3 linked regions of the Homo sapiens genome follow. The protein of the gene in region 3 interacts with the protein of the main gene of each other region in a pairwise test. Each region holds a gene or a part of one and is shown on either strand. Other genes may lie near its edges.

Evidence for each region. Proteins that work in one complex are often made in the same cells at the same time.
Region 1: the proteins of SMC3 (region 3) and PDS5A interact in binary tests that used the Homo sapiens proteins (3 or more experiments, as listed by UniProt).
Region 2: the proteins of SMC3 (region 3) and PDS5B interact in binary tests that used the Homo sapiens proteins (3 or more experiments, as listed by UniProt).

What each region holds. Positions count from the first base shown.
Region 1 is NC_000004.12:39,967,305-39,976,040, forward strand, and holds part of PDS5A (sister chromatid cohesion protein PDS5 homolog A), read right to left. Parts: intron 7,036-8,736; exon of another isoform or gene 6,831-7,035; intron 6,527-6,830; exon of another isoform or gene 6,139-6,526; intron 1-6,138. UniProt on the Homo sapiens protein: Probable regulator of sister chromatid cohesion in mitosis which may stabilize cohesin complex association with chromatin. May couple sister chromatid cohesion during mitosis to DNA replication.
Region 2 is NC_000013.11:32,588,323-32,597,058, forward strand, and holds part of PDS5B (sister chromatid cohesion protein PDS5 homolog B), read left to right. Parts: intron 1-8,736. UniProt on the Homo sapiens protein: Regulator of sister chromatid cohesion in mitosis which may stabilize cohesin complex association with chromatin. May couple sister chromatid cohesion during mitosis to DNA replication.
Region 3 is NC_000010.11:110,598,532-110,607,267, forward strand, and holds the end of SMC3 (structural maintenance of chromosomes protein 3), read left to right. Parts: intron 1-1,122; coding exon 1,123-1,281; intron 1,282-1,907; coding exon 1,908-2,015; intron 2,016-2,490; coding exon 2,491-2,599; intron 2,600-3,105; coding exon 3,106-3,353; intron 3,354-3,434; coding exon 3,435-3,647; intron 3,648-3,942; coding exon 3,943-4,134; intron 4,135-4,293; coding exon 4,294-4,471; intron 4,472-4,652; coding exon 4,653-4,759; intron 4,760-5,699; coding exon 5,700-5,771; 3' UTR 5,772-7,517; downstream 7,518-8,736. UniProt on the Homo sapiens protein: Central component of cohesin, a complex required for chromosome cohesion during the cell cycle. The cohesin complex may form a large proteinaceous ring within which sister chromatids can be trapped.

The DNA.
Region 1 (8,736 bases), on a different chromosome or scaffold from region 3:
AAAAAGAAAAGAAAAGAAACAAATTTCACTCTATCCATCCCTCCGTTTAAAAATCAAGAAATGCCTGGCGTGGTGGCTTATGCCTGTAATCCCAACACTTTCGGAAGCCGAGGTGGGTGGATCACGAGGTCAGGGGTTCGAGACAAGCCTGACCAACATGGTGAAACCCCGTCTCTATTAAAAATACAAAATATTAGCCAAGCCTGGTGGTGCACGCCTGTGACCCCAGCTACTCAGGAGGCTGAGGCAGGCGAATTGCTTGAACTCAGGAGGCGGAAGTTGCAGTGAGCCAAGATCGCGCCACTGCACTCCAGCCTGGGCGACAGAGCAAGACTCCATCTCAAAAAATAAATAAATAAAATAAAAATAAAAAGGCCAGGCACAGTGGCTCTCTCCTGTAATCCCAGAACTGTGGGAGGCCAAGGCAGGCAGATTATGAGGTCAGGAGTTCGAGACCAGCCTGGCCAACATGGTGAAACCCCGTCTCTAACTAAAAATACAAAAATTAGCTGGGTGTGGTGGCAGAAGCCTGTAGTCCCAGCTACTCAGGAGGCTGAGCTGAGATTGCGCCACTGCACTCCAACCTGGCAACAGACCGAGAGACTCCATCTTAAAAACAAACAAACAAACAAACAAAAAAAACACCAATAATTATCAAGGCCCTCTTACCTCCAAAGTAGCAAGAAAGAAAGAAACAAAGTATGTGTATAGTAAATAGCTCTGTAGTAATCCATGATATAGGATATACTACATAACTAACTTAATTCCATTAAGCCCTTTATGGAATTTGCACAGCTATTTATAAGTGTATTTTATTTTTTTAATTTTTATTGTAAATGAGGTTTTGCCATATTGCCCAAGCTGGTCTCAAACTCCTGAGCTCAAGTGATCTGCCCGTTTCAGCCTCCCAAAGTGCTGGAAATACAGGCATAAGCCAGAGGACACCAGACCTATAAGTGTATTTTAAATGTCACTTATTAGATGTGAACCCTGTATTAGTTTCAGAACCCACAACTATATGGGAGGATGGCTATTTGTGATTCTTTTTTTTTTTTTTTGAGATGGAGTTTCGCTCTTGTTGCCCAGGCTGGAGTGCAATGGTGCTTAGATTACTTAATTATAATATTAATTTTTTTTTTTTTTTTGAGACAGAGTTTCACTGTTGTTGCCCAGGCTGGAGTGCAATGGCACCATGTCGGCTCACCACAACCTCCGCCTCCTGGGTTCAAGCGATTCTCCTGCCTCAGCCTCCTGAGTAGCTGAGATTACAGGCATGCGCCACCACACCCGGCTAATTTTATATTTTTAGTAGAGACAGGGTTTCTCCACGTTGGTCAGGCTGGTCTCGAACTCCCGACCTCAGGTGATTCACCCACCTCGGCCTTCCAAAGTGCTGGGATTACATGCATGAGCCACTGTGCCCGGCCTGTAATATGAATTTTTTAAAAAATCACTTGCTCAGTGTATGCTTTTACTTTTTTTTTTTCTCGTGACAGAGTCTTGCCCTGTCCCCCAGGCTGGAGTGCAGTGGCGTGATCTCGGCTCACTGCAACCTCTGCCTCCCAGGTTCAAGGGATTCTACTGCCCCAGCCTCCTGAGTAGCTGGGATTACAGGCATGTGCCACCACACCCAACTAATTTTATATTTTTAGTAGAAACGGGGTTTCTCCATGTTGGTCAGGCTGGTCTTGAACTCCTGACCTCAGGTGATCCGCCCGCCTAGGCATCCCAAAGTGCTGGGATTACAGGCGTAAGCCACCGTGCCAGCTATTTGTGATTCTTAATGTAACAATGATACTAAACTATTGGCCATCCTTCCACATAGCTAACTTTAGTATGGTTTTAATATTTGTCAATTAATATATAATTGTAACTTCTATTATCTAAGTAGCAGAAGTTAATGACACTTTTCAGCTTTAGGTGACTAGCGTTGTTCACAACCTATCAAATGGTCAGTTTCTTCACCTGAAAAATTAGAACAGAAATACATAACCTCTGAACTACCTGTTGACTCCAAAATTCTAAGTACTGTACCTATGTTACCATCTCTAAGACACAAACTCCTTAGTTTGAAAAGTCCTAGCCAGGCAGAGTGGCTCACGCCCTAATCCCAGCACTTTGGGAGGTCGAGGTGGGTGGATTACCTGAGGTCACCAGTTCGAGACCAGCCTGACCAACATGGTAAAACCCCGTGTCTACTAAAAATACAAAGTTAGCCAGGCGTGGTGGTGGATGCCTATAATCCCAGCTATTCAGGAGGCTGAGGCAGGATAATCACTTGAACCCAGGAAGCAGAGGTTGCAGTGAGCCGAGATCAGGCCATTGCACTCCAGCCTGGGCAACAAGAGCAAAACTTGGTCTCAAAAAAAAGGAAAGTCCTTAGCTGCAATTTGAAATTTTTTCAAATTATCCTTTACTTTCAAAAATAAAAATATTTCTCTAATTCAGTATTAATACAAAATATTCATTCATTCACTTAACAAGTATTTGTTCAGCACCCAATTATGTGCCAGGCATTAAGCTTGGCACTGAGAGGAATGAAAAACAGACACGGTATCTGTATTAATAAGGTTTACAGAGAAGCTAAAGAGACAAACCAAATAAATGTATGGATAAATGTAATATGAAGGAGTTGAAGGGTATGTAATGTAGAATCTTTTTTTTTTTTTTTTGAGACAGAGTCTCGCCCTGTTGCCCAGGCTGGAATGCAGTGATGTGATCTCGGCTCCAAGAAAAAGGGTTTCACTATGTTGGTCAGACTGGTCTCGAACTCTTGACCTCGTGATCCACCCACCTTGGCCTCCCAAAGTGCTGGGATTACAGGCGTGAGCCACCGCGCCCAGCCTGTAATGTAGAACCTTAAAGGCTTCCCTTAAGAAGTAACAAATGAATGACAAATGAACACATGGGCTATTTAATGTAAGGAACCTGTCTAGACAGAAATAAACATGGCATGTTCAGGAAACCAACCGAAGACCACTGTGGCCTGACATAACAAAAATAGGTAAAGTAATGCCCTGGAAACAGGAATGAAAAGCTCTAGTATAGGAAAACATATCTTAGCTCTTTCAAAGACATACTCTAAGAATTATTGTCAACGAAGCTTCAAAGCTTCACAATAGTTTCTCTCAAATGCTTAAAAAAAAAAAAAAAGCTGTCCTTTTTCTCCCTACAAAAGACCAAACTCACTCTCATTCTCTTCACATTTCACTGTAATGTCTTCAACTACATGATAAAAGTTACAACTTTTTAGTTCTACTTAGTTTAGATTCCTTAGAAGAAAGCAACTATATAACAACCAAAGTAAATATGGCGTTATTGCCCCTGCCCTCTGCCACTAAACTGCCCTGTGACTGATTTTGGTAAAGGTTACTTGAATACTTTGGCCTAACTTTCATTATCTGTGAAGTAAGAGGAGGTTCCAGAATTTCCTTTAAGATCCTTCTAATTCTAAGATTATGGTTCCACTGTAAAACCGCTTGTTCCTTTTTTTTTTTTTTTTTTTTTTTTTAAGACAAGGTCTCACTCGGTCACCCAGGCTGGAGTGCAGTGGTAGGATCACGGTTCACTGCAGCCCTGACCTTCCTGGGCTTGAGTGATCCTCCCACCTCACCCTCCTGAGTAGCTACGACCATATTTGCATTTTTTGTAGAGATAGGTTTTTGTCATGTTGCCCAGGCCTATCTCAAATTCCTGGGCTCAAGTGTTCCTCCCACCTTGACCTCCTGAAGTGCTGGGATTACACAGGCATGAGCCACCACACCCAGCCTTGTTCCATTCTTGAAAACTGACGAGAACAGGACCAAACACCGCTGAATTCCTTTGTAATTGCCTTTAAGATGTTTTTTGTTTTGTTTTGTTTGTTTGTTTTCGAGACAGAGTCGCGCTTTGTCACCCAGGCTGGAGTGCAGTGGTGGGATCTTGGCTTACTGCAAGCTCCGCCTCCTGGGTTCATGCAATTCTGCCTCAGCCTTCCAAGTAGCTGGGACTACAGGCCCCGCCACCACGCCTGGATAATTTTTTTGTATTTTTAGTAGAGATGGGATTTCACCTGTGTTAGCCAGGATGGTCTCGATCTCCTGACCTCATGATCCACCCGCCTCGGCCTCCCAAAGTGCTGAGATTACAGGCGTGAGCCACCGCACCGGGCCTGCCTTTAAGGTCTTTTTTAATGAGACAGAGTCTCACTCTGCTGTCACCCAGGCTATAGTGCAGTGGCATAATGCCTCACTGCAACCTCTGCCTCCTGGGTTTAAGTGATTCTCATGCCTCAGCCACAGGAGTAGCTGAGATTACAGAGGTGTGCCACCACACCTGGCTAATTTTTGTATTTTTAGTAGAGATGGGGTTTCACCATGTTGGCCAGGCTGGTCTCGAACTCCTGAGCTCAAGAGATCCACCTGCCTTGGCCTCCCAAAGGGCTAGGATTACAAGCATGAGCCCCTGCGTCCGGGCTTAAGCTCTCTTTGTGTTTGTACAGCATTTCAACACTGTTGCTATGTTATAATAATAATAAACTCCTGAATTTATAAAATTATCAATAACTAAGATTCTAATAAAAAAACAAAATTTCAAAAATACTTAAGTATTGTTAAAAATCTACATTTCCAATGAGACATAATACTTTAAAGAAGGATCCCTAATTAAGTACAAAGTCAAAATAGAAAGGAAGGCAGAAGAAATACAAAATCAAAAGAATTTTTCAGAAAACATTTTGGCAGTAGGACATTGAAGTTGGTTGATATGAACGTCGATTTTAACTTCCAAAAGAACTCATAACAAATGGATAATCAAACTCGATGCTCATTCTCCACTGGATTGTATGTCCATTTATAGTTAACAGTACTTCTGATAATCGATTTTCAAACAGAAAATGTACATAAGTAGTCATAACTTTCCCAACACACCTTAAAAAAATAATATTGAGACACGGTTGGCTGGGCGCGGTGGCTCACGCCTGTAATCCCAGCACTTTGGGAGGCCGAGGTGGGCGGATCACGAGGTCAAGAGTTCGAGACCAGCCTGACCAACATAGTGAAACTCCGTCTCTACTAAAAATACAAAAATTAGCTGGGCATAGTGGCACGCACCTCTAATCCCAGCTACTTGGGAGGCTGGGGCAGGAGAATCGCTTGAACCCGGGAGGCGGAGTTTGCAGTGAGCCAAGATTGCACCACTGCATTCCAGCCTGGGCGACAGGGCGAGACTCCGTCTCAAAAAATAAATAAATAAATAAAAAATAAAAATAAAATTGAGACAGGGTCTATGTTGCCCAGGTCTGAACCTCCTGGGCTCAAATGATCCTCCTGCCTCAGCCCTCAAAATGCTGGGATTACAGGCATGAGCCCCTGTACCCAACCACAACTTTCCTTTTTTTTTTTTTCACTGTTTAAGGAATTTTTTATTAAAAAAAGAATTTTATAATCCAAATTACGCTTCCTTGCTCAGTTATCAATTCTGTTACTTAAAACAGAACTGATATTTTGAGCTATTCCACAGTAAAGATTACAAGGAATGCTTTAAATTTTTGTACTTTGCTGAAAATTATTTTTCCCAGGATCTATAAAACATTAATTTGTCTTTATATTTTATTATTTTTTGTGGGGTTTTTTTTGTTGTTTGTTTTTAAATCAATAAGTAATCTAGGACTAATATTATGTTTGCTAGACCTGGCATTTGCTCGGTACATAATGTTCAAAGTTTCCTTTCCTTTTTAAATTTATTTTATATTTTGCAATTTTTTTTTCCATATTTAAGTTTTTCGATGTTTAGATATTTTTCTTTGGTGAAGCACAAGTTTCTTTTCGTGGTCTCTGATCAATTTTAAACAGCAGGAACACCAATGGCACTGTTAACTGCTTTCTGGGTAGCCTCTTTAGCTTGGTGGGCTTGTAATATAGCTAGCTTCATGAACCTTAGAACAGAGTGACTCTGGACTCTCGAGCATATGAACATTTGCTTTTGCTCTTGAGGGGCAGATGCCAACATGGAAGCAGTCAAAGGTTCCTGACCTTGTACATGAACAGCAGGCTGTTGCATTGTAACTTGTGGCTGTGCATTAAGATGTTGCTGAGGATTGCGAACTCCCGCAGCATATTTATACTGTGGAACGGTGTGGACAGCAGGAGTAGCTGCAGCCAGCAGATACCAGGGTGTTAATATTTACGTGAAAAATCTTGATGATAGTATTGATGATGAACGTCTCCAGAAAGAGTTTTCTCCATTTGGTACAATCACTAGTGCAAAGGCTATGATGGAGGGTGGTCACAGCAAAGGGTTTGGTTTCGTATGTTTCTCCTTCCCGGAAGAAGCCACTAAAGCAGTTACAGAAATGAACGGTAGAACTGTGGCCACAAAACCATCGTATGTAGCTTTAGCTCAGCGCAAAGAAGAGTGCCAGGCTCACTTCACTAACCAGCATATGCAGAGAATGGCAAGTGTACGAGCTGTGCCCAACCATGTAATCAACCCCTACCAGCCAGCACCTCCTTCAGGTTACTTCATGGCAGCTATTCCACAGACTCAGAACCGTGCTGCAAGACCGGGCGCGGTGGCTCACGCCTGTAATCCCAGCACTTTGGGAGGCCAAGAGGGGCAGATCACGAGGTCAGGAGATCGAGACCATCCTGGCTAACACGGTGAAACCCGTCTCTACTAAAAAAATACAAAAAATTAGCCGGGCATGATGGCGGGCGCCCGTGGTCCCAGCTACTCGGGAGGCTGAGGCAGGAGAATGGCGTGAACCCGGGAGGCGGAGCTTACAGTGAGCCGAGATCGCACCCACTCCAGCCTGGGCGACAGAGCGAGACTCTGTCTCAAAAATAAATAAAAACCGTGCTGCATACTCTCCTCCTAGCCAAACTGCTCTACTGAGACCAAGTCCTCGCTGGACTGCTCAGGGTGCCAGACCTCATCCATTCCAATATGCCAGGTGCTATCCCCAAGCTGCTCCTATACCACCACTTAATACTATGAGACCAGCTTCTTCACAGGTTCCATGAGTCATGTCAACAGAGCGGTTGCTAACACATCAACTTTCCATTTTTTAACCAAATTATCCAACATTAGAATTCAAGGTTTCAATATTCTTAATTTGAAAACAATAAATATTAACGATCCATCAATTGTTTAAGTTTTATATTTCATAATTTCTCACTCCCAAAACAGTGTAACTTTTAGAAGCATCAATCAAGCAGCTCAATTCATGTATAATCTTTAGTATCAATATTTGCTTTATTTATTTTATTTTACTTTTTTGAGATGAAGTTTCACTCCTGTTGCCCAGGCTGGAGTGCAATGGCGCGATCTCCGCTCATCAAAACTTCCGCCTCCCGGGTTCAAGCGATTCTCCTGCCTCAGCCTCCCAGTAGCTAGGATTACAGGTATGCGCCACCACGCCCAGCTAATTTTGTATTTTTAGTAGAACTCCAGACCTCGGGTGATTTGCCTGCCTCGGCCTCCCGAAGTGCTGGGATTACAGGCTGGAGCCACCACACCAGGCCCAAGATTTGTTTTAATGAAAGGGGCTGGGAGCAGTGGCTCACACCTGTAATCGCAGCATATTGGGAGGCCGATGCAGGCAGATCATTCGAAGTCAGGAGATCGAGACCAAAGTGACCAACATAGTGAAATCCCATCTCTACTAAAAATACAAAAATTAGCTGGGCGTGGTGGCAGGCACCTGTAATCCCAGCTACTAGAGAGGCTGAGGCAGAATTGCTTGAACCCGGGAGGTGGAGGTTGCAGTGGGCCGAGACGCGCCACTGCACTCCAGCCTAGGTGACAGAGCAAGACTCCGTCTCAAAAAAAAAAAAAAAAAAAAAATTTAGCCGGGTGTGGTGGCACACGCTGGTAGTCCCAGCTACTTGGGAGGCTGAGGCAGAATAGCTTGAACCTGGGAAGTGGAGGTTGCAGTGAGCTGAGATCCCGCCGCCGCACACAGATTTGTTTTAATGAAAGGAACTGTTGTCTTATTCCTTCCAAAAAGGCAACAAATTGCAGAACCAAATTAAGAGTCTGAAAACTAAACCACAGGAATATTTTAAATACTGTACTCATTAAAATGCAACATTAGGTACATTTACTGGGCTCCAAGAGCAAGAGGCCAAGCTCATTCCCTAAAATACATTTGGCCAAGTGGCCCAAGGTGGAAACATTGTCAACAATGTTGCTTCCCTCACCTCCCACCAATTCTGATTGATTCTAACTCTGAAAAGTTGTTAAATCATTTCCTAGTCACTATTACCAATGCCATAGCCCTACCTGAAGATTTCAACGTCTTTCACCTAGACTACTGTTTACAGTTTCCTAGCCGGACTCACTGCCTCTGGTCTTCCCCTACTCCAATCTAGCACCAATTGTGACAACCAAAATGTCTCCAGCATTGCCAAACATCTCCTGGAGGTCAAAGTTGCCCTGACTCAGAACCACTGCTTCAAGCTGTTCCTACAAGAAGAATATTACTTATTTGTTAAGATTCTGGCCACAATCTATGTCAGTGGAACAGAAACCAAAAAAACTAACAAACATGAGGTTGAAATTTAAAACCTTAACCTTAGGACTGCCATGCTTAAACAAAATTAGCTGACACCTCATAAAAAGGGCCATAATACTCTTAAACTCCTTTGAACGTATAGACTTAAATCATCTTACTTTAAGCCTGAATTATGAAAAGTCTGTACCTTCTGTCAAAGTTTAACCACCATATATACATATTTAAGCTTCTGGATATAGAAA
Region 2 (8,736 bases), on a different chromosome or scaffold from region 3:
CTTAACTGTAAAAACACATCTTAAGAACATTATTCCTTATAAATAAAATTTGTACTTAATATACATTTACAAATATGTCTAACAAGATGCACTTTAGACTTTATAAAAATTACCAAAATAGTGACTTTTTCCTCCTTTTTCTGATGGTTTTAAAAATTGTTCTCTTCTCAGCTGGCGTTTACTTAAAGGTATATTTTAAATGGGAAGGTAGTGTTTGTCTTGGCCTTTTTTCTTTTTTTCTTTTCTCCTTGTTTCGGTTAAGGCTGATTTTCCCTATATTAACTTTTCTTTTACAGCAGCTTTTGTTACTCTTGTAGGCTTTGTTCTCTCGTGTTATGTCTCTCCCCTCTCCCCATATTAGAGAGAGATGTGGTGATGATAGTGATTGTTGTTAGGAGATGTTTGTATTAAGCTTATTTGTAATAAGATTCTACCGAGTTGGCTGTTGGATGAAAGTTGTTTAAATTGTTCTGCAGCTTTGTTTAACGAAGTAACATTTTGAGCAGTAGGCTTTATCAATAATTTGTTAGGCCTAAGATAAAGTGATACTCTGTATTAGGCAGGGCTTGCCCTGGAGAGGGGTGCAATGGTAGAAAATACCCAAAACTTTGTGGGGAAGGAATATTTCGGGAAGCTGTATTCTTTCTGCTTTACCTCTTGGGAAATTTAGAGACTGCCTTAGAACTAACAGGAGTGCTCAGTATGATTTGGCATACGGACTCTTGAATGACATGGACTGTATATAACGTATATTGGAAAAGAATACATTTGTGTTTCCTCTGTTAGTGTTAAAGAGCAACAAGAAAACTTAAGGATGATCTCCAACTCACTTATACATGAGAAATTAGGTTCAGATTTTAATTTCATTGATTTATCTGAGGTCACAGTCATATTCATGTGGTGGAACTGGGGCAGCCCTTAAGATATCCTGGAAGCTTAGAAGTTTCCCCATTGTCTTTTTTTGTTCTATTCAGGATTTAGCAATATTTATTAATAAAAATTCAGGGTAGTACATTACCCTCCATCCCCTTCTCACCTTTTTATTCATTTAACCAAGAATAAAGTTTTGTGGTTAGCCGTCTGTTTCAGCGTCTGGTTTTTAATAATTTCTGTTTAGGATTCAGTCCATTTAGGTTGTCTCAGAAGATAGCCTCTTGTAGGTCTCTGTCTCCGGGAGCCGTCTTTCTTTATGTAACATTACTTGACATGGCATTTATTTATTCTTTGTGAAACTTCTAAGAGTAATTTGGGAAAGTTAGTATTGACCTTTGTTTTGTTACAAGATATAGTGCGTGCATGAGTATGCGTGTATTTTTTCATTTTTAAACTCAGTTTGCTACACAAGTCATCTGTCACTTCTAGTTACAATAGGCGTTTTACTTGGTTTTCGTATTCCTGTTCGGGAATGTTAAAGATTCCAAAAATACTTAGTTTAAAAACAAGCCCAGTAGTTTCTCTGAGAGTGTATTTACTTTTTAAGAAGCTGCCAAATGGTTCGCAATTCTGACTCCTTGGAGAGTAGAGGTAAGAAGCCCTTTCCTCACACTGTTCTGTTACAACCACTTGATTCTAACCATTTCCCCCATTACTTGAAAAAGGTTTTAGAATCCTTTCTCATTAATTAGTTCAGAATTAAGAATAAATTTGCTGTGTTGAGACTGTAATTGTTTTAGCTGGCATGAGTGATCGTGCACAGTGAAAAAATCATGATAATAAAACTTAGATGAATAAAATTTATTTGTTCAAATCTTAAAGCCTTTGAGGTTTAAAAAGTATAATCATTGTGTTCTAATAATTAGACATTAATAATAAGTAGTAATTAAAAATACTTGGTTTAGCTATGTAAAACATAAAAGCTAACAGGCTTGGGGGAAAGACTGATTAAAGTAAGAAACTATTTTGAGGCATCTTTTTAAGGACTAAAAGTATTCCACTAGCCTGCCATTCTCTTTTTTGACGGATAATTACCTGATTCAATTAAAATGAACAGGTACAAAACTTCCATATACATACAGTACCAGGGATGATGCACTAAACAGGACTGAAGACACCCTGTCCTATAGAAGTGCAGAGTAGTGGTTGGCCATCCACAGCAAGGTGATGAGAGCTGAGACAGACCAGAGAGTAGGATCTCTGCTGTTACTTAGTTCCGAAGGAGCAGGCCCTCCTTCCTTTTCAGTGGCAGTTGAGGTTGCTCTTTTTATGTGGGAGAGTGAAATTAGCCAAGATTAGATCCCATAAGGAGAAGGAGGGGCTCTTATAACCAAGACCATTGTCTTTCTCTAGAAGAGGATGGTTAGGGACCTGAAAAGAAATGAGATTTTGTGTTTCCTTAGGTAAGATAGGATTCTTTCTCCTCAGAGGTGATTTTAGGGAAGTAATTGAAGATATTTTAAAGGAAAGCTCCATATCTCCAAAATATTATTTAGTAGCTGAAGTTCTACCAGGTAGTTTCAGTTAGCTTTCAGATATGGGATGCTTTGGGTTGGGTGTGGGGGTGAGAGTTGCAGGGGCAAGTTGCAGGGGCAAGATGCTGGGCAAATTGCAGGGGTGAGAGTTGCAGGCCTTAAGTACTCTATTAGGGGAATAGAGTACCTAAAGAATTGTGTATTTTAAGTTAAAAGTTATACAGGTATATGGTAAAAAAAAAAAAAATTTAATGATAGAGTAAAAAATGTTACTTTTTTCCTCCCCCCACAGGTAATCCACTGTTAACAGTTTCTTAAAAGTTTACTTTAAAAAAAATTGTACAAAGAGTATTGTTATACTGTTGTACTGTAATTTACTATTTTATTTATTTATTTTATTATTATTATTATTTTTTGAGATGGAGTCTCGCTCCGTTGCCCAGACTGGAGTGCAGTGGGGCAATCTTGGCTCACCACAACCTCCACCTCCTGGGTTCAAGTGATTCTCCTTCCTCAGCCTCCTGAGTAACTGGGACTACAGGCGTGTGCCACCATGCCCAGATAATTTTTGTATTTTTAGTAGAGACTGTGTTGGCCAGGCTGGTCTCAAACTCCTGACCTCGTGATCCGCCCGCCTCGGCCTCCCAAAGTGCTGAGATTACAGGCATGAGCCACCACGTCCGGCCTACTGTTTTATTTTTTAACTGTGATTTACTTTTTTCCTTAGTTAAGTCACAAGCTCTTTTCATACTGGCACATACAGATCAACATAATTAAGAAATAATAAGAATATTTTATTATAACATAATTTATTTTTTCTGACTCCTGTTGAGTAGTACTACGTTGTAATAGTTTACATTGACCAGCAGCGTATGAGAATGCCTGTGACATGTATTTACCAACATTGGACTTTAAAAAACTATATTGCCAATTTGATATATGAAATTTGTCTTGTTTTGGGTTTGTATTTCTTTGTGAGTGAAGGTAAACATTTGTTTATATGCTTATTAGGGGGAGGCCATTTGCAACATATTCTTTAATCAAGTGGTTTAATGCTAGTTTAATTTACTTGCTGCCCCCACCACCTACCTTCACCCTTACCTAAGAGCTAAGATGGTCTGAGAGAAGTGGGACTTTAAGAAGAGGAAAAATATTTTGGGGCTCATGGCACCTTGACGGGGAGCAATGCTCTGAATGGAGAGGCTACAGCACCTGGCTTTGAACAACTCTGGGTCAGTATGAGAGTATTGAAAGCCCTTGACTTGGTGTAAACATAAGGTAGAAGAGAAGCTGAAGCGACACACAGGAAGGGAGATTTGAGAGTCAGGGCAAATAAATTTTGTATAGAGTCAACCCCACCTTGTACCATCTGCTTATCCTGTCTCATCACTTCTCCCTCCCACCTTCAACTATCATTTCATTTTTATTCATACTGTCATTTGGTTTTCTCCTCTTTTCCTGTCAGGCATGGCAGCCTGGACCTGGGTATTTCAAATGCCCCAGAGATGAGGTGTGCTTAGTTTTTGGTTTTCTTTTTTTTTGAGACGGAGTTTCGCACTTGTTGCACAGGCTGGAATGCAGTGGTGTGATCTCGGCTCACTGCAGCCTCGGCCTTGGCAGGTTCAGGCGATTCTCCTGCCTCAGCCTTCTGAGTAGCTGGGACTACAGGTGCACGCCACCACGTCTGGCTAATTTTTTGCATTTTTAGTAGAGACAGGGTTTCACCATGCTGGCCAGGCTGGTCTCGAACTCCTGGCCTCAGGTGATCTGCCCGCCTTGGCCTCTCAAAGTGCTGGAATTACAGGCGTGAGCCACTGCGCCCTGGCCTAAGTAGAAGCTCTTGAGCACTTTTTCCCCCTCTGTCTCTTTGGTACTATTCCTTTCAGCTTTCGACTCTCCTAGCCTTCTGGGGTAACATAAATAGGTCAAGTCTTTATAGCTGTAGTTGGAATTCGGAAGGTCACTGGCATTTAAGACTTGAACATAGGAGCATATATCACAATATATGCTCCTATGATATATCAGGATGTGATGCTTGATAAGTGGGGTCCCTTTCTAAGGAATGCAGAAGAGCATGGTGGTTAATTTAAGCATATAGACTTAAGAGTCAAGACAGCTTGGGTTTTTATCTCCTCTAGCTAAACAAGCAATTACCTAATCTTACTAAATCTCAACTTCTTAATCTGAACAGTGGGACTAACAGCAGAAACCTCATTTTTAAAAGCAGCTTTATTGAGATACAACTCACATACCATAATCCATTGAAAATACACAATTCATTATTTTTTAGGATACTCATAGGTTTGTGCAGCCATCATCACAGTCTGATTTTGGAACATTTTTGTCTTCTGTGAAAAACGCCAAACCAAATGTAAATGAGTAGAGCCATTACGGAGAATATTATGGGGGCTCCTCAAGAGGTGAGAAGGGATAGAGAGAGGTTGGCTAAAGGCTACAAAATTTAGCTAGATAGGAAGAATAAGTTCTAGTGTTGTACTGGGTGACTACAGCTGACCCTTGAACAGCGAAGGGGTTAGGGGCACCAACCCCTGTGCAGTTGAAACTCCACATATAACTTTTATTTCTCTGAACTTTGGTAGTAATAGCCTACTGTTGATTGAAAGCCTTACTGATAACATAAACAGTCAGTTAACACATGGAGTGCAGTGGCACGATCTCGGCTCACTGCAACCTCTGCCTCATGGGTTCAAGCGACTCTCATGTCTCAGCCTCTGGAGTAGCTGGGATTACAGGCACCTGCCACCACGCCCGGCTAATTTTTGTATTTTTGGTGGAGACGGGGTTTCGCCATGTTGGCCAGACTGGTCTTCAACTACTGACCTCAGGTGATCCGCCCGCCTTGGCCTCCCAAAGTGCTGGGATTACAGGTGTGAGCCACTACGCCTGGCCTCCATTCTGTATTCTTAAAGCAAGCTAGAGAGAAGACAATGTTATTAAGAAAATTATAAGGAAGGAAAATATATTTGCTATTCATTAAGTGGAAGTGGATCATCGTAAAGGTCGTCAGCCTTCTTGTCTTCCTGTTGAATAGGTTGAGGAGAAGGAGGAAAAGGAAGGATTAGTCTTGTTGTCTCGAGGGTGGCAAGGTGGAAGAGAGAGAGGAGGTGGAAGAGGAGGCAGGAGAGGGAGGCGCACTGTAACTTTTACTGAAAAAAATCCATGTATAAATGAACCTGCACAGTTCAAACCTGTGTTGTTGTTACATATTTTCAACTAGCTAGAAGAGAGGCTTTTGAATGTTCCCAACACAAATAAATGATAAATGTTTGAAGTGATGGATATGTTAATTACCCCGATTTGATCATTACACATTGTATATGTTGAAGTATCACCATGTAACCCACAAACATGTACAATTATATGCTGGTTAAAAAGCATAAAAATAAAACCCCCGAACCTACTAGCTGTCACTTCCCATCACCCCTTATTTCTTTAGTGTTTGGGATAAGCCAGGTCAAATGCTTAGGTTGGTGCCAAAATGTAAGTACACAGTAAAAAAGCAGTTATAACTTTTTGCAGGGAGACTGTGTGGCAAAGTCCATTTACATAGTTTTAGAGAATGCAAAAATGGGATAATTACTGAATGGATGTTTGCATACTTCCATACTGTGCAAGGATGTGGTGCACAGTGCTGGCTAGAGATACAAAGATGAAAGATACTCAATCAAGAGATGTATATTCAAGTGGGAGGAAAGAGGCTGGTATAAAAATACTTATAAAACAAGCCAGAGTATAGTTAGTGCCTTCAGGAAGGGCTCAATACAATATTTGGAATTGGAAACTTGACAAATGGAGATTAGTCATGTTACTCTGAGAGTACAGGAACTATGAAAAAATTCTTGAAGGAGCAACCATTTTGACCAAGTCTTAGATGATGGAAAGATGGGATTTCTGGCTTTAATGAAGAGTAAAGAATGCAATGCTTTTTGAAGTCTTAAACTATTTGTTTTTGTTTTTGTACCCTCATGCTGCTGCCAGATGATTGCCTCTGGAAGCTATTCCTACACCTTTTTTTGATGTTTCTAATCTGTTATGAACCTGGGGGACTAAATTAGTAAATAATCTTTTAGTGAGAGCCTGATGTCTGTATGAAAAGGATACCAATATATGGTCTTACGCTGTCGTTTTGATATAGTTGCTTTTTTAGTTTATTCTGTGGGTCTTGGTTTCATCCCTGTTAATTGGTCTTACAGAATAAGTAATTCCTAGATAAATTAGCCTCATATACGTGTCTTCTTCTCCAAGGCTTCTAGTAACAACTATGTCCCCTGACCATTCTCCTGAATTTCCCATCTTCTTTTTCTAGTGCACTGTTGGACACAACACCTCCAGTACAATATATCCCAAACTGATCTACCTTCTCTTACTCTTTAACATCTTTCCAACTTGTACCTTGATTAATAACAGATTTCTTTCTTAAAAAAAAAAATGTTGTAGGGGATGACATGACTAGGTTTATCATCATGCTAGAAACCTGGGAGTCATCTTGACTTCTCCATCTCCCCTAACTCTCACATTACATAAGTTACCAAATCCTGTTGATTCTGATATAGTATTTTTAAAGGTTATTATTATTTTAAATTATATGCACATATATACTCCAAAAGTAAGACGGCAAAAAGGAAAAAGATACACAATAAAAAACCTCTCATTCCTTCCCCATTTGCCTCATTCCTAGACTCCCACAAAAGTTTATATATGTTAATGTTATGTTATATCCTTCTGGGGGTTTCAAAACACAACTATGTAGAAGGAACCACATACTTAAACAAATAGTAACACATAGCATGGGATTTCCACAATAGAGGTATACACAGAGTCTGTGAGAAGGAGAAAGAACCACCATGCATTCCCTAAAAGAAGAGTTAGGTATTGGAAAAACCTTCCTATTGGGTCCTGAATAGAAGATGAAAAGGAGAACTTTGGACACGTGAATAAACCAAACTGAGCTGTTAATAAGCAGAGAACTATCAATTAGACACAGAGACAAAGGGTCTAACAATAGGATGCTAGAACATTTCATTGTTTGGGGGGTTCAAAGGACCTATAAGGAAATAAAAGAAAATGCTGGCAGCCACACACAGTGGCTTACATCTGTAATTCCAGCACTTTAGGAGGCCGAGGTGGGCTTCTTGAGGCCATGGACTTGCAGTTACTTTGGGATCTAGCAAAGATTTCAGCGCATTGTAGATGATGAATATTTATTGAATATGTGTAATAATGTATATATACTAAACATATATGTGACAACCCAAGACAAGGAAAATTAATACAATATTAAGCTCACAGATTTATTTAGAAATATAAAATTTTATTTTTATTGAGGTGTAATTAAAATACAGTAAAATGTGCAGATCTTAGCTGTTCACTTTGATGAGGTGTGATGATTATACACATGTAACCAATAACCACAAGAAGATGTAGAGCATTTTTATTACCCCACAACGTTTCCTTGTTGCTCTCTCCATTCAATTTCTTTTGCCTCCAAACACTCTTTGATTTTTAAATGTAGATTAGTTTTGTTCTATCTTCATACAGTGTGTGCTCTTGTGTATCTGGCTTCTTTTGCTTAACATATTTTGAGATTCATCCATGGGGTTGGATGTATCAGTTTTTATTGCTAAGTAATATTTCATTGGGGGAATATTTCACAGTTTATCTTCTGTTGATGGACATTTGGGTAGAATCCAGTTTTTGACTATTATGAATAAGGCCTATACAGATCTTTTTGCAAGTGTGTGTTTTCATTTCTCTTGAGTAAATACCTAGGAATGGAATTGCTGGTTTGTAGGCATATGTGTGTTTAACTTTACAGGAAACTAGTTTTTCAAAGTGGTTTTCCTTTTTATATTCCCACCTGAATATATGAATGTTCTAGTTGTTTTACATCCTCACCAACACTTGGTTAGTCAATCTTTTTAATTTTAGCTATTCTAGTGGGTGTGGAAGGGTATCTCATTGTGGTTTTATTTTGGATTTCCTTGATATCTAGTGATGTTGAGCACCTTTTTGCATGGTTGTTGACAGTATATTTTCTTTCGTAGGATGCCTCTTCAAGCTTTCTGCCCATTAAAAAATGGATTATCTTTTTACTATTGATATGCAGGAATTCTTAATGTACTCACGATACAAATTCTATGTCAGATCAGAGTATTAAGAGTATTTTCTCCTGTTTTGTAGCTTGCCTTATCTTTTTTTTAACAGTATTTTGATGAGTGGAAGTTTTAAAATTTGATGAAGTCCAGTCAATCAACTTTTTGTTTTATGGATTGTGCTTTGAGTTCTTTTTATTTTTTATTTTTTTGAG
Region 3 (8,736 bases):
GAGTAGCTGGGACTACAGACATACGCCACCACATCCGGCTAATTTTGTGTTTTTAGTAGACATGGGGTTTCACCATGTTGTCCAGGCTTGTCTCAAACTCCTGACCTCAGATGATCCACCTGCCTTGCCCTCCCGAAGTGCTGGGATTACAAGTGTGAGCCACTGTGCCCAGGCTAGACCCATACTTTTGGATATCTACATCTATTTTACCATTCTTAAACCCATGGATACCCAAAGTCTCCTATTGTTGGCACGTTCAAACTTTCCACCTTCATTGAACAAATAGGCATTTGAAGCTGTGACATAAGAGTACTGTCTGATGGTCAGTTTTTGTCAGTAACCATTTTTATCTGAAGCACAATGGAATTAGTTGAATATTTGATTCCGTTTTGTCCAGATTGTATTAAAATTAGAAAGCAAACTTATAAGTGATAGTGTGTTATTGGTCTCATAAACTTGACAGTTTTGACAAATCTTTTACTTAGTATAATACTAAAACTACAAAGAGCTTAAAAAAAAAAAAAAAGATGTGCCTACAGTTGTACCATCCCAACCATATTCTGACAACTTTTTATTTTTTGAGGGGGATGGAGTCTCGCCCTATCGCCCAGGCTGGAGTGCAATGGCGTGATCTCGGCTTACTGCAACCTCCACTTCCTGGGTTCAAGCAATTCTCCTGCCTCGGCCTCCAGAGTAGCTGGGATTGCAGGCGTGTGCCTCCACACCCAGCTAATTTTTGTATTTTCAGTATAGACGGGTTTCACCATGTTGGCCAGGCTCGTCTCGAACTCCTGACCTCGTGATCCACCCACCTTGGCCTCCCAAAGTGCTGGGGTTACAGGCGTGAGCCACTGCGCCCGGCAACTTTTTGTTCTTATAATATGCCTGAAGATTTTTGTATAGTTTAATCATGGAATATGATCTGCCCCACCCTGCCCCACCTATACTATTACATCATATTTTTCTTGTTGCTAGAGTCCTAATTACCAAATTAATAGGCACCTAATATTTGAGTTGATATGTCTATATATTTAGCTCAATCAAATATAGATTGTTTTAAAATTTTCACTATAAGTAATACAGTGGCTAATACCTTACTAATAAATGGATAATGTCATATAGCAACGTAGCTTACAGAGTTTGGAGGCAAGCTTGCATGCTATGGAGTCTACCAGAGAGTCATTGAAAGCAGAACTGGGAACTGATTTGCTTTCTCAACTGAGTTTGGAAGATCAGAAGAGAGTAGATGCACTGAATGATGAGATTCGTCAACTTCAGCAGGTAAGTAGACAGCTGACTGGAAAAAGAATTCGTTAGTAATTGGCTATTGTGAAAAGGGCCTTTCTTGCTAACTAGGGCAATATGAAAGAAAAGAACTGAGAAAATATTAAAATGAGGCTTGGACTTTTAATATACATAGGAGTAAATAAGATTTTGTTTTTCTAAACCAATCTAGCTAGGTTAGGATTATACAAGAAATTTTCATTTCCTTAAAATTTAGTTAATTAGCATTACTTATTAGTTGTAAGTATTGCTATGAGTTTGAGCTTGTTAGCCTTACCATATTTATCTTACTGCCTTTACATATTTAATGTTTTGATCAAGCATTTTAATTGATTTTTAAAACTGCATAGATGTAAACTACCAACACCGATTCTAAAAAATGAAAAGCATTTAAAGAAACTGTTTTTGACAGCATGCGTTATAAAAAGGGCCAGCCACAAAAATTTAACATTATGAATTGATAAGAGAAAAATGAAGAAAGTATAGGGCTTTTTTGAAGAATATAACATATTAAACTTCATTTCAGCTCACATGAGCACAAGTACTAGAGAGGACAGCAAATGAGCACCATTCCTGTGTGTGAAATGTACATGCTTATATAGACAACTTTTTCTTAATTCTAGGAAAACAGACAGTTGCTAAATGAAAGAATTAAATTAGAAGGTATTATTACTCGAGTAGAGACTTATCTCAATGAGAATCTGAGAAAACGCTTGGACCAAGTAGAACAGGTGTGTATGTGTTTTTTTTTTTTTTTTTAAGGGCTCCTTGGTGGCCATGACCTATTGCAAGTGGTTATATCAGAGGCTCTGATTGAAAGCATGGGCTTTGGGGACAGAAAGCTTAGTGTCTTGTGGGCCTTGGGTTGGAATTCTGCCACCTAGTGTGTGATTTTGGACAAGTCACTATTTCTAAGCCTCAGTTTCTTGTGTGAATTAAGCATTATCATACTTGTTTTATATAATTGCTATCCTGACACATTCTAAGTACTTTGTTAATATTTTTTCAGTGGTGGTTAGATGCTTAGAAATTTTCTAGTAATTGTGTCTTTTTTTTCTTCCCTTTAATGGATACTTCTAAGTATTTGTAATTATATGATGTATTTATATTTTTTTGTTTTCTTGAATGTTTATTCAGACAATAGCCATAGAAAATGTTGGCAGTCATAACATTTGAAACTAATGGAATTTGTATTTTTTGTTACAGGAACTTAATGAGCTGAGAGAGACAGAAGGGGGTACTGTTCTCACAGCCACAACATCAGAACTTGAAGCCATCAATAAAAGAGTAAAAGACACTATGGCACGATCAGAAGGTGAATTTTTATGTAGTAAAATTTTGTTTATATGCATGTTTTATAAAATTGTTTACTACAGAATGAAATGTCCAAATAGGCAGAAGCATATGCTAATGATTTTTTGTTTTCCATTATAAACAATGTATAGCAAATGGAATTTAGGAAGTTGACTATAAATAGTAACTTTTGTTTTACTGAAATGTTTATGACAATTTTGAGACCATAAATGATTCATTTTGTTGATAAAATATGAAATACCTGACGAAAGTTTCTCATCACTTAGTTGTTAGAAAATAACTATAGTTTATAAGCATTAACATTGAATAATGAAAATTATATATTTGAGTGACTCATATATACTTCTAATTTTGTACTGACTTAACATGGTTCATAAATTTTCACAGAAAATTTTAAACACAAAACCTAAAACCTATTTTGGTAGGTTTGATCATAAAAATCTATACTCAACATATAACACTGGCTTTATAGGTATTATAGCCTAATTTTGTTTCCCCCCATCTTAGATTTGGACAATTCCATTGATAAAACAGAAGCTGGAATTAAGGAGCTTCAGAAGAGTATGGAGCGCTGGAAAAATATGGAAAAAGAACATATGGATGCTATAAATCATGATACTAAAGAACTGGAAAAGATGACAAATCGGCAAGGCATGCTATTGAAGAAGAAAGAAGAGTGTATGAAGAAAATTCGAGAACTTGGATCACTTCCCCAGGAAGCATTTGAAAAGTACCAGACACTGAGCCTCAAACAGGTTGGTTTTAAATTTGAAGTCTTGTTACAAATTGCTCAGTATATAAATTTATTTATATGAATACATATTTTCTCTTTATAGTTGTTTCGAAAACTTGAGCAGTGCAACACAGAATTAAAGAAGTACAGCCATGTTAACAAAAAGGCTTTGGATCAGTTTGTAAATTTCTCCGAGCAGAAAGAAAAGTTAATAAAGCGTCAAGAAGAGTTAGATAGGGGTTACAAATCAATCATGGAACTGATGAATGTACTTGAACTTCGGAAATATGAAGCTATTCAGTTAACTTTCAAACAGGTATGTTTCGCTTTGTAGTTAAAACATACACACAGAGGACAAAAGCTTCCAGCTCTTTTCAGTTTGTAAAGATTTTAAAGCTGTTTTCCTCATTACCAGGTGAATCTAATACATGTGAACAAACCTAGCATATAGGTTTACAGTAACTTGAATGTTTTACACAGCCCTTAGAAGGATCTAGTCTGTTATCCTTGTTCTTAAGATTAAAAAATAATTGGTTGCTTTTAAATATTTTACTTAAGTGTTATATATAATTCTAAGCAAAATTTATATTTCAATCTGCTTTTGTTTTAAGGTATCTAAGAACTTCAGTGAAGTATTCCAGAAGTTAGTACCTGGTGGCAAAGCTACTTTGGTGATGAAGAAAGGAGATGTGGAGGGCAGTCAGTCTCAAGATGAAGGAGAAGGGAGTGGTGAGAGTGAGAGGGGTTCTGGCTCACAAAGCAGTGTCCCATCAGTTGACCAGTTTACTGGAGTTGGAATTAGGGTAAAATACCTTTATATTCCATTTTCCTCAGAGCATTACCATAATAGAATTTATAGTATCTTTTGCAAATCTGATTGGTGCATTATATGCAAGTTACTTTTGAAAGATGGTGGTGATTCTGCCCTTTAGGATATTAACTCATAATATGTTTATTTTTAGGTGTCATTTACAGGAAAACAAGGTGAAATGAGAGAAATGCAACAGCTTTCAGGTGGACAGAAATCCTTGGTAGCCCTTGCTCTGATTTTTGCCATTCAGAAATGTGACCCGGCTCCATTTTACTTGTTTGATGAAATTGACCAGGCTCTGGATGCTCAGCACAGAAAGGCTGTGTCAGGTACAGTTTCAGTACAGTTTTGGTTTTGTATTTAACAATAAGCTGGTAATATTTGCTGATGTATATATGAAAAAATCAAACTCAGGCAGTTTTGAATTTTAGTAAGAGTAAAGATAGTTGCTTTTTAAATTTTCAGATCTGCTGAAAAGAAATTTGTTAAAGCACAATTTTCTTTTTACAGATATGATTATGGAACTTGCTGTACATGCTCAGTTTATTACAACTACTTTTAGGCCTGAACTGCTTGAGTCAGCTGACAAATTCTATGGTGTAAAGTTCAGAAATAAGGTAATTTTATTTTACATTGAGTTTAAGTTTGTATTTATTCAATTATATTTGTTGAATTCTGATTTTATGTTACTTAAATAGTGAAAGAAAACTTAGAAAGTCTTTGCTTATCTGATGTCTTTGTAAAGAAAGAACTTTTCCTTCAAATAACTATGAAGTTTAGCAGTATTTTATGGCGTTGCATTGGTTTTATTTTCATTGGCATTAATAAACAATATCTTTCTGTCCAGTCTATTCAATGCTTCTGTAATGCACAGTCTTTAACAATTATATATGTTCATTTGTATAGACTGCATAGCTCTTCCTGGGTGTCTTCCCAACCTTAAAATTCTTGATGAAATAGCAAAGTAATAGAAAGTGAACAAAAAGGTAGTTTAGATGTTTAGGCATGATATTTATTTCTTCAGAGCATTAAAATACATATTTTTTAAATCTATGCATTGAACAAACACCACTGTAAATAAAGGTTTTATAAGTCAGTGCTTCAGAATTATTTTCCTTCATATGTAAAATATAGGTGATAGGCCGGGCGCAATGGCTCATGCCTGTAATCCCAGCACTTTGGGAGGCCAAGGCAGGTAGATAACCAGGTCAGGAGTTTGAGACCAACGTGGCCAGTATGGTGAAACCCCCGTCTCTACTAAAAATACAAAAATTAGCTGGGCATGCTGGCGTGCACCTGTCGTCCCAGCTACTTGGGAGTCTGAGGCAGAATAATTGCTTGAACCTGGGAGGCGGAGGTAGCAGTGAGCCAAGATGGTGCCACTGCACTCCAGCCTGGGCAACAGAGCAAGACTCCATCTCAAAAAAAAAAAAAAAAAAAAAAACTAAAAATTAAAAAATGTAGTTAAATGTAGTTGATAGGCTGTATATATTTACCCTATACAATGTAAACACTGATGTAATTAACAGATTTTTGTTTTTAACATTTATTCTTCAGGTTAGTCATATTGATGTGATCACAGCAGAGATGGCCAAAGACTTTGTAGAAGATGATACCACACATGGTTAATTGGAAAATACTACCTACTGGTTTGGGAGATGTATATAGTAATATGATTCTCATACCCAGGAACTGTAAATTTAAACCTAAATATTTGGCCAATAGTTTTCAGACTTAAAGCATCATAGTCCTTTTATATTTGTCTTTGTATTTTATAAGATACTCTGTAATGTCATGTTTGTACTGATAGTTTAAGAATTTAATTTCCTGTACAACTTTTTGTAAAATGTTCTGCTCCTATTTTAAATGTTTTGAAACATGCTAAATATTCTTTCCTAATTATTTTATCACTTATACTACCTTTTTTATAGCTTCAATTAAATAATCGGTTTTATGACTAATATAGTGTTTTATGTGGCTTTTCATTTGTCATAGTCTCTTCCAGTGAGAACACTAATCAGATTGGATGTAAGGCCTCATTTTAACTTAATCACCTCTTTAAAAGACCTGTCTCCAAATACAGTTAAATTTGAGGTATTGAGGGTTAGGACTTCAACATGTGAGTTTGGGAAGGGAAGCACAAAATCAGCCCCTACCATGGTATATTTATCATTGATACATTACTATCAACTAAGCTCAAGATTTTATTCAGATTTGACTAGTTTTTCCACTAAGGCCCTTTTTCTTTTCTAGGATCCCACAGAGGATACATTACATTTACTTACATCTCCTCTAGTCTGTGACAATTTCTCTGTCATTGTTTATCATATCTTGACAATTTTGAATAATATTCACATATTTTGTAGAATGTCCCTCAAATTAGGTTTGTCTAATATTTTTCTCATGGTTAGATTGGAGCTAATACCACAGAAGCGAAGTATTCTCATTACCTCATATAATAGTACATATTATTAACATGTTTTATCACTGATGTTTACCTTGATCACCTACCCAACATTGTACTTGCCAGGTTTCTTTGTTGTGAAGTTACATTTTTTTCCCTTTCCATACTACTCTTTTCTTTGAAAGTAGGTCTTTAAGCACTGGGGGTCTCCTGTGACCCTGGAAAACTACCTCAATAGTCCTCGTAGCTTTTTGTAGATTCTTTGAGATTTTCTACATAGACAGTCATGTCATTTGCAAGAAAGAGGCAGTTTTATTTCTTCCTTTTCAAATATTTACCTTTAATTTCTTTTTCTTGATTTCCCCTGGCCTGAGTTTATACTGGTTATCTGCAGGAGAATTTGTTAGGAGCTACTCTTCCATCATTGGAAACCAGAAATACCTAAAGAGATACTTTTAAAATAAAGAAATAGTAATGGGACTTTAAATTGAATTTAAAAATGTGAGTTTACTTTGGGTTTTCATTTTGACTGGCTGAATCTTTAAATGTTCGGTGTATTATTTATACTTTGTAGCTTTGCTATAACATAACTGATCTATAATAGAGAATTTGGTATATGTTCTATCTATGACTACATTCAAAGGGTTACGTAACTATAATATCTTTCTAATATTTCTACCATTTTTCTTACACATTTACCCAAGAATTTTTCTCAAACAACTACCTAAGAATATTCATCATGAATGCTTGGTGTATAGTTTACGATTTGTAGAGTTGCTCTGATATGACCAACCCCTTATAATACAGAATTTGGTGTAAGGTAAGTTCCAGGATTCAATTCAAGGGATGTTACAAACATAACATCATTCTAGAACTTCTTAATATTGTTCTTAAGCATTTCCCCAAGGATATTAGTATAATGAAATGCCAGTAAATTTATAACAATAAAGCATCTAAATAATGAAACAAAATTTTTGTAAAAGCCTATATTCTTTGCGATATCTTAGTCATGAATTAATTCTAATGAGACTGAATAGAAAAATGTGACAATCCTGAGCATGCTTAACCCAGAAACTTAGAGGAAGGACAGACATTTACCCAAGGAGTTAGCCAGTGATTCATAAGAAAATCTATGCTTCTCTTTGGCTGGATAGTCCTTTCCTCAGAGTAGTACTGATTCTTCCACTTTGAGATTTTGTTAATACTGTTACAAATACATTACATTCACCATAGTGGAATTGAAGAACATATATTTTAAGAGATGGTGGGGGGGGTCTCATCCCATCACCCACGCTGGAGTGCGGTGGCAGGATCACAGCTCACTGCAACCTTGAACTCCTGGGCTCAGGTGATCTTCTGCTTTGGCCTGCCAATATTAATATTTTGGGGCATTTCCTTCAAATCTTCATAAAAAGTTTTGTGGTTTATGTTTATTCTAGGTGTATAATTTTATATCTTAGATTTTTAATTTAGTAATAATATAAAATATTCCTGTTTTAATGCTTTGGAAACAAGATTTTAATAGTCATATACTATTCTGTCAAGTAGAAGTAGCATAATTTACTTAAATATCCCACTGGAGGCTTAGATCGTTTTCTTTTGGCTAAAGTACCAAAAATGAATTAAAAAACAGATCAACATTTTTATACATAAAACTCCCAACATTTAGGATTATTTTCCCAGCGTAGATTCCTAGAAGTCAGAGTGTGAATATTTGTAAGGATTTTTGTATACTCTTTATGCTCTTTTTGAAAAAAATGTAAAATATGAAATGGTTAGTATGTAGGTTAAGGATTTGTCTACTCAAAATTAGTGAAATAGTAATTTTAGAAAATGATGTAATTTATAGAAATAATTTTACTGTGAATAATATAATCAGTAGAAAAGGGAGAAATAGAAAGGGAGGATTTCTTTTTTAAGAGTAAGCAATAGCCGGTCGGGCACGGTGGTTCACGCCTGTAATCCCAGCACTTTGGGAGGCCAAGGTGGGTGGATCACAAGGTCAGGAGATCGAGACCATCCTGGCTAACCTGGTGAAATCCCGTCTCCACTAAAAATACAAAAGATTCTCCGGGCGTGGTGGTGGGCGTCTGTAGTCCCAGCTACTGTGGAGGCTGAGGCAGGAGAATGGCGGTAGCCCGGGAGGCAGAGCTTGCAGTGAGCCTAGATCGTGCCACTGCCCTCCAGCCT